3 linked regions of the Homo sapiens genome follow. The protein of the gene in region 1 purifies or fractionates together with the protein of each later gene. This does not show direct contact. Each region holds a gene or a part of one and is shown in the gene's direction. Other genes may lie near its edges.

The links. The genes of interacting proteins can lie anywhere in the genome.
Region 2: the proteins of H1-6 (region 1) and RSBN1 purify together in Homo sapiens (affinity purification with mass spectrometry; 2 studies listed by BioGRID and IntAct, with this or other methods). This does not show direct contact.
Region 3: the proteins of H1-6 (region 1) and PUM3 purify together in Homo sapiens (affinity purification with mass spectrometry; 2 studies listed by BioGRID and IntAct, with this or other methods). This does not show direct contact.

Annotation. Positions count from the first base shown.
Region 1 is NC_000006.12:26,106,907-26,112,717, reverse strand, and holds H1-6 (histone H1t), read left to right. Parts: upstream 1-4,582; 5' UTR 4,583-4,624; coding exon 4,625-5,248; 3' UTR 5,249-5,306; downstream 5,307-5,811.
Region 2 is NC_000001.11:113,809,459-113,816,897, reverse strand, and holds the start of RSBN1 (lysine-specific demethylase 9), read left to right. Parts: upstream 1-4,421; 5' UTR 4,422-4,485; coding exon 4,486-5,188; intron 5,189-7,439. Other genes in the region: PTPN22 (tyrosine-protein phosphatase non-receptor type 22), read left to right, coding at 1,929-1,993. UniProt on the Homo sapiens protein: Histone demethylase that specifically demethylates dimethylated 'Lys-20' of histone H4 (H4K20me2), thereby modulating chromosome architecture.
Region 3 is NC_000009.12:2,827,078-2,834,104, reverse strand, and holds part of PUM3 (pumilio homolog 3), read left to right. Parts: coding exon 1-74; intron 75-672; coding exon 673-748; intron 749-2,760; coding exon 2,761-2,854; intron 2,855-3,076; coding exon 3,077-3,143; intron 3,144-4,156; coding exon 4,157-4,331; intron 4,332-5,326; coding exon 5,327-5,430; intron 5,431-6,953; coding exon 6,954-7,027. UniProt on the Homo sapiens protein: Inhibits the poly(ADP-ribosyl)ation activity of PARP1 and the degradation of PARP1 by CASP3 following genotoxic stress. Binds to double-stranded RNA or DNA without sequence specificity. Involved in development of the eye and of primordial germ cells.

The DNA of each region.
Region 1 (5,811 bases):
AGGAAAAAAGGGTAAAGGGAAAGGGAAGTAGGCATGTACCATTTTAATGCACACCTTGGTTTTCAGAAAATTTAAGAAGAAAGACTTTCTGCTTTTCTCTGACTATTCTGTATTCTGGATTACAACGCAACAGAAACGTCACCTTAAATTCTAATGTTTTTCTCTCCTTGCTTTCAAAAACTGACTCATTAACCTCCACGTGGCTTGGAAAAATTATTTCAGTCATCCAGTAATGAGCTGTTCATAGAAATGTTTTGGACATCAAGTCTGTGTTGTTAGCATTATACATGTTAAGCATTGAATAAAAAACAACATGATGTGGGTAAATTTCTTTACTTACATATAAGTACTTATATACTTATAGCTGAAAAGAGAGGTTGAAATGTCAGGTGGAACAGAAATAAGATTACCTAGATGTTTCTCCTATGGGTGATTTTCAGCTATGCTGATCTTTCTTCTGGGTCAGGTACTCCCAGAACTTCCTAATTAAATGGTGGCCCTGATCTTAGTTCCTCTCTCCTCTTAGACATTTTCCAGGACTACAGAAGATGTGCAGTTTATAAATGAGTAGCAGAAACCTACTGAACAAATTATTCAGGCTCATCTGAACAGAGAGGACACCTTCTCTGCTATACTCTCTCAGTGATTTCCCTGCCTTGGGGTCAATTATTGTCTTGGACATTGATTTAAGCACATAATAATTGTTGTCATTGCTTATGTTTGGATTTCATCTCCCAAAATAGATGGTAAATTCTTTAGTTTAGAGACCAAGTAATACTTAAAAAAAAATTTTGTGTGTGTGTGTGTGTTTTTTCTGTGTCTCTCAGCCCTGTAATAGCATCGTACTTACACTTGTTAGATTTTTAGAGACAACTTTTACAAAACATGGAATTATCTACATACCCTTTCTACAAAACAGACAAATTAAATACTCAGTAGTTGAACCAAAAAAAGCAGTTCAAATAAAATACTTGAAAATGAAGAAATCATTTGAACAGAGTTAAAGTTAATCGTAAAATAATGTCTGTAAAAATTATTGCCAATCAAATATAAAGTTCAAAAATAGTGCTTGAAAAAGGAAGAATCATATGAAAAGGGACTACTCATTTTAAAAATGTTAGATATCAGGAAAAGCCAAGAAGTGAGTATGGTAAGAGTGCTGTCAAGTGAAACCCTGCTAATCTCACTGAACATGTAAAAATCTGTAGATGCCTTTATTTTATTCACTCACACACATATGTAGAAAGAGAAATATATGGTAAACATTAAAAAAACCAAATTAGAATGTAAAATTAATACTTTAAAAAATGGGCTGTATACTTTTCTTATCACCGGAGATAAGAATTTATTATTTTTAAAATAAAGTTATTTTCTCTGTGACTGTTTCCATGACTTTGCTACTTAGAAGTTAGAGATGCCAAAGTTTATCTAAGAAAATGTTTATGGAAATATTATTTCAATAATGAATGTTTAGAAGACTGAATTTCCTGACTGGGCGCAGTGGCTCATGCCTGTAATCCCAGCACTTTGAGAGGCTGAAGAAGGAGGATCGCTTGAGTCCGGGAGTTCAAGAGCATCCTGGGCAACACAGCGAGACCCTGCAGCAAAGTAAAAAGAAAAAAGAATTGAAAAAGGAAGACTGAATTTCCTTTGGGCAAGTCATGTGACATTCCTGTGCCTCAGTTTCTTCATCTATAAAGTTAATTCCTACATTTTTGGGGAAGGGAGAGAAAAACTTAGGATAGTGACTGGCACAGAAGAAGCACTATATACTATATATATGTGGATATCATTTGTTTTTATGGTACCATTTTAGCTATCTAATGCAAAATATGAATCTTTTTTTTCTGGGTCTTAAATTATGGAATGTAAGAATTTTCTAAATTCTCTAATTCTGTGTTAGTTTTAAAGCAATGGAGTAACGTATCTGTCAACTTGTAAATATAAGGATCAACCTGATCCACAATTTGACCCCTAGCCACTAATATTTAATAGTACAACACTCAGAAATTATCAAAGGTCAGAGAAGCCAAACAAATGTAAAAACATACAGGTGCTCAGAAAGATGCACCTGTAATCTCTCTAAGGAGAAATATTTTCCAAACTGAGTGACACGGTGCTTTAGTGAGTTGTGGAATCAATCTCATGATTTCCAACCTAGTGTTCTTTTAAAAATGAACTAGTCCACAGTAGAATATACTAAAGTGCTGGTGCTTAAGATAGTATTGTTTTCTGGAAAAAAAAAAAAAATTTTTTTTTTTTGAGACAGGGTCTCGCTCTTGCCCAGGCTGAAGTGCAGTGGCACAATCATGCTCACTGCAGCCTTGACCTCCTGGGCCCAAGTGATTCTCCCACCTCAGCCTTTTGAGTAACTGGGACCACAGGTACGTGCCACCACACCCGGGTAATTTTTTAATTGTAGAGACAGGGTCTTGCTATGTGCTTAGGCTGGCCTTGTGAACTCCTGGGCTCTAGTGATCCACTAGCCTCAGCCTCCCAAATTTATGGGATTATAGGCATGAGCCACCCTACCTGGCCTGTTCCCTGAATTTTTTTTTCTTTCAGGTGTTTGTGCATATGTGTGTGTGTATGGGTATAACAGAGAGACAGAGAGAAAGAAACTTTTCTATCTCACTTTGCAATCAGAAGTTTGAAGTCTTATCTTTTGGCTTTTGTTTCAGAAATATTTCAAATGTAGACTCTCTCCTTTACCACACTGTCCCCTTAGGCAAGGTCTTTGCCATTCTTCTGAGACTATTGCAACAGACTCCCAACTTCTGACTGTGGGCCCTTCTCAAAAATGATTGTTTATGCAATAAATCTAAACCCAAGACAACTACAACAATACAACAAATTCTCTGCTTAAAAACTTCCAATGTCTGCCGGGCGCGGCGGCTCACGCATGTATTCCCAGCACTTTGGAGGCAGAGGCGGGCAGATCACTTGAGGTGGGGAGTTCGAGACTAGCCTGGCCAACATGATGAAACCCCATCTCTACTAAAAATACAAAAAATTAGCCAGGCATGGTGGTGGGCGCCTATAATCCCAGCTAATTGGGAGGCTGAGGCAGGAGAATTGCCTGAACCTGGGAGGTGGAGGTTGCACTGAGCCAAGATCACACCATTGCACTCCAGCCTGGGCAACAAGAGCAAAACTCTGTCTCAAACCAAACCAAAACAAAACTTCTAATATCTACCAAATGTTTCACACAAGTATTTGGGGATCTTCACAAATGGCCCTTATGGAGTTTTCCTTTGCTGAGACCCTATGCTCTGGCCACACTAAACTCATTCAGCATCCCAGAAAGGCCTCAGCCTTTGTGAGCAAGCTCTTATCTCCAGGCCTCTCACAAAGACCTGTTCCAGTAGAAGCTCAGGGGAGCACACTGGACATTATTCCAACAACCCTTTCCCCACAGCTATGCAGCCAAATCTGCCAGCTCAGTTAATTAATTAAGCAATTCAGAGATGAGGGTCTGCCCAGGCTGGAGTGCAGTAGCTGCGACCTCAAGCTCCTGGGCTCTAAGTGATCCTCTTCAGTCTACCCAGAAGCTGGGACTGCAGGCATGTGCCACCACACCCAGCTAATTTTTTTTTTTTTCAGTAGGGACCAGGCCAACCTAGTCTTGAACTCCTGGCCTCCAGCCTTCCGAAGTGCTGTAATTACAGGCATGAATCACTGCGCCCAGCCAACCCGCCCAGTCTTGTTAGACATGGGGTCTGTAGTTTCTAGTAGGTTCTTGAGTCTAGGGTTCCTACCTCATGTTTTATAGTTAATTTAGGGGAGGGACTGTGTCTGTTTATCTGGGGATGTAGGGGTGGGCAGGGGGATAGAGGGGACTTCAATTAATGAAACCAGAAGCAAAACTCAGTTGAGGACACCGGTCATGAGAGTGGCCTGATTATGGCCAATCTTACATAATGTGTGAGATCTTGATATTACCCCATCCTTGAGAGTCCTCTATAAAGCTACAGGGACTTGGGAGCACCTTTAATTACAGACAACCCATGTTCCTGTGGATTATGATTTATTAGATTGCACATGCCTAAATAAAGACATCCTCTGCAGTCTTTTGACAATTCTATAAGCATCTTCTGACTCCGCAATTAGACAGCTAAGAGATCTGTGTTACTTCCCTCACATATATAAATAATTTTAAATAAAAATCATGGCGTGAATAATTTCTTTCCTCTACCGATTTGAAGCTATCCATTTGGAAGACCACTCTGAAGAGATGAAATAAGTCTTCTGCCAAAGATTACTTATTAATTTACAAGGAAAAGGGGAAGTTTTGTTCCTCTCCGTGAATTTGATTGAAAATCGAGGGCTTTCTCGAATAGTTTTGGCATCCAGGGTCATTTTTCATTAAAAAGAGAAAAGTCATGTCAAATATGAATTTCCGCAGATTATTCAGCACTAGACCCTGGGAGATTCTGTAAAGAGGGGTTTTGTTATACTCAACTTTTCCGGGTAAAACAAACACAAATACTCCTCCTCCAAGGGGCGGGGGCGGTGCCTAGGTGATGCACCAATCACAGCGCGCCCTACCCTATATAAGGCCCCGAGGCCGCCCGGGTGTTTCATGCTTTTCGCTGGTTATTACATCTTGCGTTTCTCTGTTGTTATGTCTGAAACCGTGCCTGCAGCTTCTGCCAGTGCTGGTGTAGCCGCTATGGAGAAACTTCCAACCAAGAAGCGAGGGAGGAAGCCGGCTGGCTTGATAAGTGCAAGTCGCAAAGTGCCGAACCTCTCTGTGTCCAAGTTGATCACCGAGGCCCTTTCAGTGTCACAGGAACGAGTAGGTATGTCTTTGGTTGCGCTCAAGAAGGCATTGGCCGCTGCTGGCTACGACGTAGAGAAGAATAACAGCCGCATCAAACTGTCCCTCAAGAGCTTAGTGAACAAGGGAATCCTGGTGCAAACCAGGGGTACTGGTGCTTCCGGTTCCTTTAAGCTTAGTAAGAAGGTGATTCCTAAATCTACCAGAAGCAAGGCTAAAAAGTCAGTTTCTGCCAAGACCAAGAAGCTGGTTTTATCCAGGGACTCCAAGTCACCAAAGACTGCTAAAACCAATAAGAGAGCCAAGAAGCCGAGAGCGACAACTCCTAAAACTGTTAGGAGCGGGAGAAAGGCTAAAGGAGCCAAGGGTAAGCAACAGCAGAAGAGCCCAGTGAAGGCAAGGGCTTCGAAGTCAAAATTGACCCAACATCATGAAGTTAATGTTAGAAAGGCCACATCTAAGAAGTAAAGAGCTTTCCGGGAGGCCAATTTGGAAAGAACCCAAAGGCTCTTTTAAGAGCCACCCACATTATTTTAAGATGGCGTAACACTGGAAACAAGTTTCTGTGACAGTTATCTATAGGTTTAAGTTGTGATGCAGCTGAGTTGAAAAGGCTTGAGATTGGAGAATTAATTCAGGCCAGGCTTCAAGACCATCCTGGGCAACATAGCCAGACTACCATCTATACCAGGGGTCCTCATTTCCCCGGCCACCGACCGGTAACCGGTCCCTGTCCATGGCACGTTATGAATTGAGCCGCACAGCTGAGGGGTGAGCGAACATTAACCAACTGAGCTCCACCGCCTGTCAGGTTAGCTGCAGCATTAGATAGATTCTCATAAGCTCAAACTGTATTGTGAATGGCACATGCAAGGGATCTAGGTTTCAGGCTCCTTGTGACAATCTAATGCCTGATGATCTGAGGTTGGAGCAGTTTTAGTCCGGAAATCATTGCTCCCAGCCCCTGCACCCCCTGGTCCGTGGTATAATTGTCTTACACAAAACGGTCTCTTGTGTCAAAAAGGTTGGAG
Region 2 (7,439 bases), on another chromosome or scaffold:
TTGCTCTGTCACCCAGGCTGGAGTGCAGTGGCACGATCTCAGCTCACTGTAACCTCAGCCTCCTGGGTTCAAGCGATTCTCCTGCCTCAGCCTCCCCTGTAGCTGGCATTACAGGCACCCGCCACCATGCCCAGCTAATTTTTGTATTTTTAGTAGAGACAGGGTTTCATCATGTTGGCCAGGCTGGTCTTGAACTCCTGACCTCAGGTGATCCACTCACCTCAGCCTCCCAAAGTACTGGGATTACAGGTGTGAGCCACCACGCCTGGCTTCTGGGTTGAAATTTAAGCAACATTTGAGTAGTTACCATAGGCTTGAATTCCTGGCCCCAAGCTATCCTCCATACTCACCTCCAAAAGTGCTCGGATTATAGGTTTGAGCCACCATGACTGGCCTGAGGAACATTTGAGTACTTACTATGTGCCAGGCATTGTGCTGGATGCTGTTTTTTTTTTTCAATTCTTTTTTTTTTTCCCCTCTGCAGCCTTGACCTCCCTGGGCTCAAATGATTTGCCCACCTCAGCCTCCTGAGTATCTGGGACCAGAGGTGCAAGCCACCATGCCCGGCTAATTTTTTTGTGTTTTTTTGTAGAGACAAGGTTTCACTATGTTGCCCAGGCTGGTCTTGAACTCCTCGGCTCAAGCGATCCACCTGCCTTGGCCTCCCAAAGTGTGGGATTATTCAAAGGCATGAGCCACTGCACCCTGCCCCATTCGCTTTTTACACAAATATCTCATTTGATCCTTACATCAGTTTTTTAAGGTAGATAATACAATTTGTATGATGATGAAATTAAAGGTTTAGGTATATCTTTGAGTTTTTCATTTTATTATTCCCCTATACTTCAAACATTTCATTTCTTACTTTAAGTCCCTAAAGTTGCTAAGTGTAAGATAACTTAAAAATACACTGCCATTAGGCCTGGCTCAGTGGCTCACACCTGTAATCCCCAGACTTTGGAAGGCCAAGGTGGGTGGATCACTTGAGGTCAGGAGTTTGAGACCAGCCTGGCCAACAGGGTGAAACCCCATCTCTACTAAAAATACAAAAATTACCCAGGCATGTTGGCTGGCGCCTGTAATCCCAGCTACTCAGGAGGCTGAGGCAGGAGAATCGCTTGAACCCGGGAGGCGGAGGTTGCAGTGGGCCGAGATCGCGCCACTGCACTCCAGCCTGGGCGACAGAGCAAGACTCTGTCTCAGACAAAAAACAAACAAACAAAAAGACACTACCATCAAAAAGAAAAGTCATAAAGTCACATGTTGCTGAAATGATAAAGAACCAACATCATCAACATGCACATCTTTTGAAAGCATCCAGAAATAGCCTTCATTAGTTGTGAAAAATTTTCTCATCCTCCTTCTTTGGGGTGGGGTAGGGGGAACAAGTTTGAAGAAGAAAGATAAATAATAATGTTTACTTACCTACTTAGTTTTTCAGGATTGTTTATTTTTTCTAAGATTTTCAAACATAATCTCTTGGTAAATTGAAGGATTTCTGGACCGACATAGAGGTATAACTAGATGTAATACAATAATGTTATAAGTAACGGTGCTATATTTTTGTGAAATTAAAATTTCCTGACTTCATTTAATGGGATGGAGTGGATGACAAAAAGTCATAGACAAATGATATTATATACTAAATTATCAAAGCCTATATATAACCAGGGTCCTACATTCTATTATTACCATTATTAAATTTGTAAGTGCTCTTCAAATTTAAAGTGTTATTAGTATTCTGTTATCATTTAAGCTTTAGATTACTACAATCCCTTTATAATCTATTACTAAACTGGTCAAGATGCTGCCTAACATTTAAAAAAAGACCATGTATTTGCATATATTATAATATACTCTAAAATCCAAGTATTCATTTCTATACTTAAAACATCTTTCTTTTCATTCAACTTTATTTTTGTTCCCAGGTTTTGCAAACCGTTTTTCAAAACCCAAAGGACCAAGGAATCCACCACCAACTTGGAATATTTAATAAAACTCCAGATTTATAATAATATGGGCTGCAAGTACACCTGCAAATAAAACTACTAGAATACTGCTAGTTAAAATAAGTGCTCTATATGCATAATATCAAATATGAAGATATGCTAATGTGTTAATAGCTTTTAAAAGAAAAGCAAAATGCCAATAAGTGCCAGTTTTGCATTTTCATATCATTTGCATTGAGTTGAAAACTGCAAATAAAAGTTTGTCACTTGAGCTTATGTACAGAATGCTATATGAGAAACACTTTTAGAATGGATTTATTTTTCATTTTTGCCAGTTATTTTTATTTTCTTTTACTTTTCTACATAAACATAAACTTCAAAAGGTTTGTAAGATTTGGATCTCAACTAATTTCTACATTGCCAGAATATACTATAAAAAGTTAAAAAAAAAACTTACTTTGTGGGTTGCAATACAAACTGCTCTTGACAATGACTATTCCCTGACAGTTATTTTTGCCTAAATGGAGTATACCTTGTAAATCTTCCCAAATGTTGTGGAAAACTGGAATATTAAGAAAATGAGAAATTATATTTATTAGAATAAAATGTGCAAATAATGACAATTATTTGAATGTAACAAGGAATTCAACTGAAATCCTGATAAGTTTTAACCAAAGTCATTAAATTACCAATTCTAGAAAAGTAATCAATGAAATATAATAGCTATCTTTTGGTAGCAAAAGATATAAATTGTATATGTTTATACAGGATCTTTCAGATCATGTGCAATTTTTATCTAACCAATCAGAAATACTAGTTTAAAATGAATTTCTATATGAATATGGATCTGCCATAAGAAAATCTAGTTCAACTCTAATTTTATGTAGTAAATAAATTGGCAGGTAATTGTTTTTACAAAGAATCCACCTGACTTCCCCTAATGCATTAAAAATATTTTTATTTAAATAACTTTATTTATAACTTTTAGAAACATGTAGTATTGTTTAAACATCATTTGTTCTTCAGTATTTTTCATTTGGAAGTCCAATAGGGCAAATTGAATGAAGTATTATTATCTGTCTCTTGTAGTACAATGTATCCAACAGACACTCAATAAACTTTTTGGTTGTTAAACTGACTTCATTGCAGTAGTGTTTAGGTAATACTTCTCCAGAAACTAGTGAAATCAAACCACAGTAATTTTATCTGCTGAGTATATATCATTGTAATCAATTACTTCCAAATGTCTTTATCAATAAACAAATATACTAAAAGAATTCTAGGTAACCATGAGTTACTTAGGGCACCATGAGTGCATCTGTAGACCCAGCTACTCATTCCTTGAGCCCAGGAGTTGGAGGCCAGCCTGGTCAACAGAGCGAGACCTTGTCTCTTTTTTTTAAGAGTCAGGGTCTAGATCTGTCACCCAGGCCAGAGTGCAGTGGTGCGACCACTCCTCCCACCTTAGCCTCACGAGTACCTGGGACTACAGGCGCGTGTCACGACACCCAGATAATTTAAAAAATACTTTTGTAGGGACAGAGGCTCACTATGTTACCAACGCTGATCTGGAACTCCTGGCCTCATGCAATCCTCCCGCCTCGGCCTCCCAAAGCTCTGGGATTACCGGCCTGAGACACCGAGCCCCGCCCCGCCCGTCTCTAAATAAATACTTAAAAGAACCCCAGGTAAAAGCTAAAGCGAGGATGAAATTCTAAATGAATTTCTGAGCAACAACTATCCGTAGTGAGCAGTGATGATTTTTGGTGTGTTCTCCGGTAGGCACACTTTTCAAATTTATGCAATCTTATCCTTAAGATTTGAAAAAAAAAAACTTATAAAAAATCTTAAACGTGGTTTTCCATCTACAATTTTTCGCAACTGTAGGGATATATTCAAAATAAATGCTGGACATTTCCAGGCATTAGAGGGGATGTGGCCGGATGGCGAGGAGGGGCCGTCCTCACCAGGACTCCAAGCAGTTCTCGCACCTGACTTCGTAGGCCTGTAGTTGTAACCATAGCAATGCCCCAGATGCTTGAAAACATTTCTGAATTGCGGCCCTATCATATTTTTACAGCAAAACCACCCTTATTTTACATATTACTAAATCCTCTTTTCACCTTCATTTCATCCCTCGTCAAAGTTAAAAGGATGAAGATTCTTTTATCTCACAAAGGTTATGAGAGAAATATTAAATTTAAAATCACTGTGGAGACCACCTCCTCCGTGTAAAATGAGGAAGGGTCACAGGAAGATGATAATGGGAACGCGCCGCCAGACTCTGAAAGCCATTAACATTGTTTCGGCCGTTAGGGCGGTTGGCGGCAACTCACCGCCCAGCGGCGGTTGCGTCGCAGCCAGAAGCGTGACTTCGCGCACGCTCCCTTTCCACTCCTCCACTCAGAGCCGGGGACGCGGCGGGGGCGCGGCGGAACTACAGCTCCCATGACGCTTTGCGCGGCATAGGGTGCTTTACAATAGAAGCTCGGTTGGAGAGGCCTGCGGAGAAAAGCTGGGAACGGCCGCTTCCGGCATGTTCATCTCTGGACGAAGAACGGCCGACAAGTGGAGGGCGGAGGAGAGACTCCAATGCCCAGCGGGCAGTGCGCGGGCGGCGCTTGCGCGATGCGCGGACGGGGGGGCGGTCGGGCCATTTAAATGTGTGTTTGTGGGTGAAATGGCTGCGCAGGTCGGAGCGGTGCGCGTAGTACGGGCGGTGGCGGCGCAGGAGGAGCCGGACAAAGAGGGGAAGGAGAAACCTCATGCTGGGGTCTCCCCGCGGGGAGTTAAACGGCAGCGCCGATCTAGCAGTGGGGGGTCTCAGGAGAAGCGGGGGCGGCCGAGCCAGGAGCCCCCTCTCGCTCCCCCTCACCGGCGGCGTCGCAGCCGCCAACATCCTGGGCCGCTGCCGCCAACGAATGCAGCCCCAACTGTCCCAGGCCCTGTTGAGCCTCTTCTCCTGCCGCCTCCGCCGCCACCTTCGCTGGCACCCGCCGGGCCCGCTGTCGCTGCCCCTCTCCCGGCCCCAAGCACCTCGGCCCTCTTCACCTTCTCGCCTCTGACGGTGAGCGCGGCCGGGCCCAAGCATAAGGGCCACAAGGAGCGGCACAAGCACCATCACCACCGCGGCCCCGATGGTGATCCCAGCTCCTGCGGAACCGATCTCAAGCACAAGGACAAGCAGGAAAACGGCGAGAGGACTGGAGGGGTGCCTCTGATCAAAGCCCCCAAGAGAGGTGAGAGCAGGCAAACTGCCCGGCTTGGGTTCTAGGTCTCTCTCAGTTCCGATATCCCGCATCTTTAGGACTGAAAGACGCCAAACCCCTGCTTACCTTCTGCTGCTGTACTTCTCTAAGCTCACTGGGGTGGACCCTGGATTTCAGATCGTTGACACGGTTTGATCTAACTACTTGAGGCTTCTCGCTCCGAGGCCGAGCTGTCAGTTGCTAATCCCTTTACCGGTCCCCCGGAGCCTCTCAGCATTTGTTTTCAAATTCTGCAAGGTTTCCGCGCCGCGTTAGATTAGTAGGTGGGGTACTAAAAAATGCCTTTCCAAAGAAAAGGCATGTTCCTAAAATCCCTTCTCCTTGTTTTGCTTGCTGGAGAGCTTTAGTTATCTGCTCTCCCTTGCTCCAGAATAGTCAGGGGTATGGTTCCAGTCTTTCAGGAGGGAATTCATATAAAGGTTACACGACTCACTGGTTGACTTAGCTTCTGCAAGGTAAAATATCAGACGCAGTTTATCTTGGTTCTTTTTAATCTAGAGGTAAAAATCATTTTAAAGTTTTCATATTAGCTATTTAAATTCTTAGAATAGGCATGTGGAAGGTTTTCTCTACCCTTTGATACTAGGAAATAGGACCAACAGTGCCTCTGAAAAGTGGGAATTTGTGCAGTAGATAGTAGAGGCCGGAATTTCAGTTGCATTTGATTCTGTCTAGCACACTTTGTGGATCTGTTAATTCCAATAGCCCTCAAGAATATTTTACTAGAAAATGTCAGAGTATCCAATTAAATGTGGATTCTAGAAAAATTAGATTGGCCAGAACTGATGTCTTCCTGTTCCCAAGTACCTGTAGCATTTATTTATATTCTTTGTGGAAGAAATGTGATGCTTTTGATTATGCCGTATGTTTGTACTTTATATATTATTTTATATAATTTACTAGTTGTTTTTCCTCAGGAATATTTGAAATACTTGTTTCTTAGTACTGGACCAGTTAGGTTATTACATGTTAATGAGACAATCTTTCAACCTAAAGTTTTGTGAGTCTTGCATTCTTTCCACGTATTGAGTCTTAAGGCTAATCATTTTTTTTGGTGGTGCTATTTCCGAATACTGTAGTTCGTTGCAAATAATTGCTCAATAAGTATTTATTGAATAGCATTAAATTTTTATTCATTTGGTGGCATCCAAATCTTGGGAGTAGAACTTGTGGCAAGATGACAGGACTGCCAGTTTTCACCACCAATATGCAATGATCTTGCTCTCTTTTTATTTTTACTTTTATTCCCTACTTTCTCATTTCTTGTGTGTGTGTGTGTGTGTGTGTGTGTGTGTTTTAACTGTACAGAACTAGAGGGAATTAGTGATCCTCTGGCTTAAATTTGTATTGTAGAAAAGGAAACTGAGGCCCAAAGTAGTAAAGAGGCCTGTTCAATCAAATCACAGTTAATTCGCATGAAGTGCAAAAAAATTAAATATTTTTTAAAAAGGTGAATATTGGCATAACAGGCAGTAGAACCCAGGCTCCTGAATCCTGCTTCAAGCTTCATCTCCAGGCTTCATGATGTTGCTTTCTCTTCCTGCTATTCATTTTTTCCACTCCTTTGTTTACCTTTTCCCTGTGCTTTGACATTACAGTGGCTTTATATCATCGAGGATCTCTGACCTGGCCCCGTTTTATGGGGGATAGTGGCAATAACATGTGTAATAATTTACAATCTTTCTCTGAAGATTGCACAGGCCCCATGTTCTTTAAAAAACACACTTCTGACCTAATGCTGACTGATAGAACTTTCTCAGATGATGGAAATTTTCTGTATTTGTGCTGACCAATATGGTAGCCGTATGTGGTTCCTGAACAGACTTGAAATGTGGCATGATTGAGGAACTGAAATTTTGATTTTATTTAATTCTAATTAATTTATAATTAGTCACATATGGCTAGTGGCTACCACACTGGACAACACCACTCTAAATATCTGTAGTTTGCCAACATGTGAAGAAGAGAAGTGGGTTAAGATAAGCCCATTTAAACATTTTAACTTTTGGCTGAGAGATTGTTGGATTATATACCCAAACTATATTTTGGGTGAAAAAGAATTTTTTGGTCAAATACATTTGAGAAAAACTGTGTACTGTAGCCTTCTACATATGTAACATGAATTGGCAAACTGGCATTTTAAAAGTTTTGAAAACCCTACAGAAAATAAACTGGTTTAACTTTGTTTAATCCAGGCTTTTGCACATAGTTTGACTGATAT
Region 3 (7,027 bases), on another chromosome or scaffold:
AGCAGACAACTCAGTGATAAAACCAACTATGACATTGTTGTTCGGGCAAAGCAGATGTGGGAGATTTTAAGAAGGTAATTCTACCTAAAGATGCCTTTGTTAGTCCCTTTGCAACAGTGGAGAAGTCAGTGTACCTTGTAAATAGTGAGATGTCCTAAAATAAATGACATAGCACTTGGGTTATTGAGGGGGTCCTCATGACACCCCATTAGAGACATCAGTACTTGGAAGTCTGCCCGTCACAGAAGTGTGTAGAATCATTATGATGGCATCGGATATGCTTATGAAAATGTATGAGGTTGAAATAAATTTGACATTCTTCCTGAGAGATTTCTGAGAAAATGAAGGACAATTTCTTATCAGCTAGATTTTGAGATACTTCAGTATTTGTTATCTTAGATTTGTTTTATTATTTTTTTTACTTCTGAAGTTCTGGCTGTTAAGATTTGGATTGATACCTAAAATTATACCTTTTGAGATGAGTTTCTGCCTTTGAGAAAATTACTTTTGTCTGGCTGCTCTGGAATAGTAATTTTAATGGCAGAGGTTTGCTGCCTTAGAAAAGAAAATCATGCTGAACTTGGAGAACATATACTGGTACAGTTTTTAATTTTGTGTGTTTAAAATAACTTCTTTATTTCAACTGTGTTTCCTTCCTCTCCTCATTTGTAGAAAAGACTGTGACAAAGAAAAAAGAGTAAAGTTAATGAGTGATTTGCAGAAGTTGATTCAAGGGAAAATTAAAACTGTAAGTAGCATATACTCATTGTTGCAATTTTTAACAGTTGAAGTTGCCTCACTCTCAGGAGTAGCTGACCATTCATGACAGATGATCTTATCATTGTTTCCGGTGTATTTGGCCAAAAGTTTTAAATATCTTCCATAACACTGAACTACATAAAAATTTAAAAGTGAGGGACCTTACTGCTAGGGAGTTTTGAAAAGATTATCAGTCTTTTCAGTCATTTTTTAATAATTCTTAAAATAAGCCAGTGTTTCCTTAAAGTTATCTTGAGAAGTTTATTAGTTCAGTAGTATTTTATAAATGTGTTGTTCTAAACTCCATATAATTTAGTATGTTCTCAATTGCCAACTTCTTTATATTTGTGATGTGAACATATTACTTCATTCTTTTCCTCCATGCTTTTGTAAACATCATGCGAAGATCTTTAACTAAAATATAATCATTTCAGAATTCTAAAGTAGTTTTCATTGTTGCTGCTTAATCCTGTTTTGTAATAAATTTCCTGTGACTCTTGTGTATTTGGATTAATACATAATGGCTTGGAAGACAACAGATTCTCATAGTTTTACGGCACCTGGAGGGGCAGCCTTTGTCAAGTCAGATGCATAGGTCTAACCAGATGCTATATTACAGTTTGAAGGAAAGTAGCAAGTCATCAGCTGCCGCTTTCTTATAAATTCAGCAGGATCTTTTTACGATAGGACTGCCCCCTCAGCTCCGACAATTTATAAATATTTCACTCAGGATTCTTTCTCAACTACCCTGAGGTCACAGCTGTATGACCATGGTGTTAGAAGTGAGTTTGGTATTCAAATCCTGGCTGGGCTGCTTAAAATATGTGTGCCTTTAAACAATAACAATAACTTCTTTATTGATTATTTACTATAGGCTAGGAATTGTGTTAACCAGCACATGCATTGTGTCGTTTACTGTATGTCATCATCCGTGTTGTATATTTGATGTATCTGGGACTCAGGGAAGTAAGATTCTTCCTCGGGGTAATAGAGATAGCGAGTTCCTTCTCATAACCTTACTTCCCTCATCTGTAAAGTGGGAATAGTAACAGCTCATTCTTATTGTTGCTTTGAGTTATAAATAAGAACACTATGTTTAAGGCATTTATGTTGATTATATAATAGGTGCTCAATATATGCACAAAAACAGCCTTATTTTTTTAAGAGATACTTAAGAGATGTCTTACAAATCTTGAAATTTATGACTTTGATGGAAGTATACACTCACCTGATTTGTTGGAATTCAGAAACTTTAGAGTGAGCAACAAATAAGCACTTTTGAAGTAGACTGGTACTGTGGCGTAGTGAAAATAATTTTGCATGATGGATGATTCGTGGAGGGCGCTCTAGAAAATTGGTCAGTGGGTCCTTCCAACAGTCATGAGGAGGAATGGGTTAGAGAATCAGATTCAAAACACAACAACTCTTCTAGAAATATAACTGGATATATGTGCAGGAATTATAATGAAAATGTGACAAATGGATGATTAACTTATTATATAATTGACAGTGTTTATGGACATAGTTGTATTTATTTCTTTAGGAAGACTTTTAGATTGATCTTACAGGTATACTTCTGGTTGCCAAAGCCAAACATTCTTAGATCACTTATATAAAAATCATACAGTAACAGACCTTTTAAACAGAAATATTTCCCTTTTAGGGACGGTAACTTATCAAAGAAATGAGAAGTATAGTCTGTATAATCATCAGATGGTTTGGTTTGCTTTGGTTTTAATTGCAATGAGAGGAGTCTTGCAAAATGGTTAAATTTATCCTTGCCTCAATGTCATTATTGTACCTATCAAATATGGTAGGCCTCAAAACAACAGAATGATGTTTTGTATAATTAAAACAAGTAGTTCTCAGTAATCTAGGTTTGATTTTATTCATGAAGACTACCTTTTTTTCTAACAAGAAATTCCAGAAGAGGTCACAATAAATTAGTGAGAAACATAAGTCTCAAAAGAGAATTAGTCTAACTCAAACTTTTTCCTGCAGATTGCATTTGCACACGATTCAACTCGTGTGATCCAGTGTTACATTCAGTATGGTAATGAAGAACAGAGAAAACAGGCTTTTGAAGAATTGCGAGGTATTTATTACATACTAAAGATTATGTTATCATTTGCAATAAGTCACTTGTTTTCTCTTAAAATACCCAAGACTGTCCTAGAAAACAATTTTTGTTTAGGTTTGTCTTCTCCAGATCCTTTTTTGTTTTTATTTTTTCCTTGCCTGGGACAAATTTCCTCCCTTTGTTTCCAGAGAACTGAAATGAGATCTGAAGTCACTGTAATGTATTTTTGTTTTTCAGATGATTTGGTTGAGTTAAGTAAAGCCAAATATTCGAGAAATATTGTTAAGAAATTTCTCATGTATGGGTAAGTTGTTTTATGTATAAAATACATTTTTTCTTTGTCTTTTGAAGACATGGTTTCCAACTGTGCTCAGATGCGAGATAGGAAGTCTGTGGTCTTTATAAGTAATAGTAATGGCTCTCAGCAGATGCTTGTGTTGTTTTTAGAGAGTATCATCTTAAATACAATTATCGAAATTAATGTAAAATTATGGTACTGCCTTCATTCCTAAAAAGATACATGAGAAATGTCCTGCAAATCTCCTTGAAATTTATGACTTTGATGGAGGTATACCCTCACCTTCTGATTTGTTGGCATTCAAAAGTTTTAAAGACAGAGTGAGCAACAGATAAGCACTTTTGAAGTAGACTGGTATTGTAGCATAGTAAAAATAATTTTACATGATGGATGATTTGTGAATGTTTATCTTGAACCTCTGGAAGAAGAGAAATAGAATAATTAACTTATAATTAGCCACCAGTATTAAGAGGGTGGAGACTGGGGAGGGACAGGTGAGTAAACTGATAGAGGGTCAGTGGGTTAGAAAATGTCAACATGGGAGAATTTCCTAAATTAAGTGGAATTAGTACTTGTCTTGACCAATCTTTTTGAGTGTATTAATGTGCTAGAATATGATAATCAACAACAAAAAGTGTAATATATGCAGTTGACAAAATTTTCAAAAATGTATTCCTAGCTGTAGTTTCCAGCTGTTTAATTCTTTTAGGATATAGTTAAAATACTTGTGATTAAGTCCCATCTTCAAAAGGAATCTTAGAATATGATTTTCTATTTCCTTGAATCTTTTATCTTTTTTCCTGCCCTACTGTTTTTTTCGAGCAGAACAGTTTAATAGGAAATGACATTTATTGAGCATTTACTATGTGCTGGCCACAGCTTCTCAATGCATGCTAGCTCATTTACTCCTCAGAGTGACACAGATTGATGAGTTGGTCTTGGGAGAAGTAAGTTGTGTTTTATTGTCACCCAGCTTTCTCCTTCTATCATTTATTTTTCCATGATTGTGTTGCGTTTAGAAGTAAACCACAGATTGCAGAGATAATCAGAAGTTTTAAAGGCCACGTGAGGAAGATGCTGCGGCATGCGGAAGCATCAGCCATCGTGGAGTACGCATACAATGACAAAGCCATTTTGGAGCAGAGGAACATGCTGACGGAAGAGCTCTATGGGAACACATTTCAGCTTTACAAGGTGACATCTCCAGAAGTCTTTTTCTAGTATTTTTACTTTTCGATATGCTCTTCCTTAACTTCCGGTGCCCTATATATCTTTTGAATGTATTTTTACTGTGGCTGGTTCTTTAAGAGACCATCTTATGCCCTTGATTTTCCCTCATGCTTTATTTTGTTTCTGGTATAGTGAGCAAGTTTCTCTTTCTCCAGAGCATTGGCTTTAAATCCCCTTCAATTCAAACTTTGTTCCTCTCCTGAGTGCTCTGTGTGTAGCACTTCAATACTTCTATTTTTACAGTCATACTGAAGGACAAGACTCCCAATAGTTAGCAAAGTTGTGTGACCACCCCCAACCAGCTCTGGCTGAAGTGTATTGGGCTCTCTGTTGCTAGCTTCTCCTGTGTTTTTTCATGTGCATGCATTGCCCTTCTTCAGATTGTGTCTGGAGATGAAGGGGAACAGAGAGACCTAACCTTGGATAGAGTACAGGGATTGAATCTGAGAATAGTTAGCAGTGGGACTAGCTGGTTAAAGAATCTATTTCAAACCTTGGAACATAAATGCACACATGTGTCTGAAGGGATATGGATTGATTCCCGGGTTGCCTCCATTAGCCAGGTTCAATTCTTGGGTTGAATTTGTTGCTGTACTAATTTTGTTAACAGTTCGTTATATTTAATAGGAATAGCCAACTAATTATAAAACATATGGTGGCAAGAATTTGTGAAGTGACTACTTGATCTCATAATTGGGCAAGAGCTAGGTGCTTGGCAAGTAACTGTTAGCTGGTTAACTTGGTTGGCCTGGCTCTTTAAATGCACTGATAGATACACAGACTGAGAATCAGCTAATCAGGTTACTCCACAAGGATATACAGCAGAGCTTTCATTATGTAAATATGGGAAATCTTAAATTTGTTAAAACTTATTTTAAAATGACTAATTACTTTTCTTTTTCCTGAAGTGAAAAAATTGATTAAATTTAGAGGGGTTTGATTGTTTTGTTTTGTTGCAGTCAGCAGATCACCGAACTCTGGACAAAGTGTTAGAGGTACAGCCAGAAAAATTAGAACTTATTATGGATGAAATGAAACAGATTCTAACTCCAATGGCCCAAAAGTAAGAAAGTTGTTTTTGTTTTGTTCTTAAGAAATGACATTCAAAGGAGGAAGGTTTTCCATAACTGTTGCCCAGAAGAGGTAGCTATTTCCTGCTTACAAGTATTAATCTATTCTAAATAAGAGTGCAAAAGTGTTGGTTTGAAACCATTCTTGGTGCAAAAGGAGATTTCTTTTTCTGATATTGTACCCTATAAAATGATAACTAACATGCATTCGTGATTTATGAGCTTTTTTAAGCAATGAAACATTCTTTCCCCAAATAAAATGTTACATGGAAGCCATGTATACTAAACAGTTTCACAAATATAATCTGTTACTCAAATTTGGTTGTAGGCAAGGTACAGTGGCTCACGCCTATAATTCTAGCACTTTGGGGAACCAAGCTGGGAGAATCACTTGAGGCCAGGAGTTCAAGACCATCTGGGGCAATAGCAAGACCCCATCTCTACGAAAAAATAAGAAAATTAGCCAGGCTTTATGGCATGTGTGTATAGTCTTGGCTACTTGGGAGGCTGAGAGGCAGGAGGCTCACTGGAGCCCAGGAGGTCATGGCTGCAGTGAGCCATGGTTGTGCCACTGCATTCCAGCCTAGGCAACAGAGTGAGACCTTGCTTTAAAAAAATAAAAAAAAATTAAAAAATGGATTGTAAGACTTGGAAGCCTGTGCATGTGCCCTTCATGGCATCTGTCCAGTAGTGGAGTGGCTGAGCATAGCTTTTGGGACCCGACTGCCTGGGTACGACTCCTGGTTCCCCACTCCCCCAACTATTACTAACTGCAATCTTTGGCAACTTAACCTCCCTGTGCCTCAATTACCATATTTGTAAAATTGGGATAATAATAGTACAGACTTCATAGGAATTTTGTGAAGATTAAATGGGTTGGTTGTTCCAAAACACTCAGAACAGTGCTTTGCCCATAAAGGCAGTGTTAGTTTTTGCTGTCTACTTGGGTATCACCTGTGAACTTTAGGTCTTTTATGCCTGACCATCGGCCTCCACTGTACACCTGGATCCACCAAGTGTCACACTAGGGGGTTTGGATTAAGTAGGTGTTGTTGCAATTGCTGACAATGTTTGGTTCATTCAAGTTTTAATTCTGCTAAAATTATTTTGTGAAACAGATGGATTGTGAAGGGTGTTAACAGAAATAAAACAACTATTAAAAAAATACATCCACATGTGGATTTCTAATCATTATGTCCAGTGCTGGGGGAAAAAATGTAGATGTCCTTATTTAATAGAGCAGAGCATATTTCAAATGTTGATTTTATGTTTGCCGATTAAATACTAGAAGTTTATACTCTGGTCTTGGTTGTAGATGGCACTAAATCAATTTTACCATCTAAATTTTTGTTTAAGTTTTAGTATTTCTGAAAAATACAGTCTATTTTATGACAAATTGTATTCAGTAAAACCATTTCACTTGTTTAGATTACTTTAGGACTTTGAGATTACCTGTCTTTGTATGACTGTAGTGCCAGATCTGTTGTGTCTTTTTGCTTTTTTTTTCTGTTTTCAGGGAAGCTGTGATTAAGCACTCATTGGTGCATAAAGTATTCTTGGACTTTTTTACCTATGCACCCCCCAAACTCA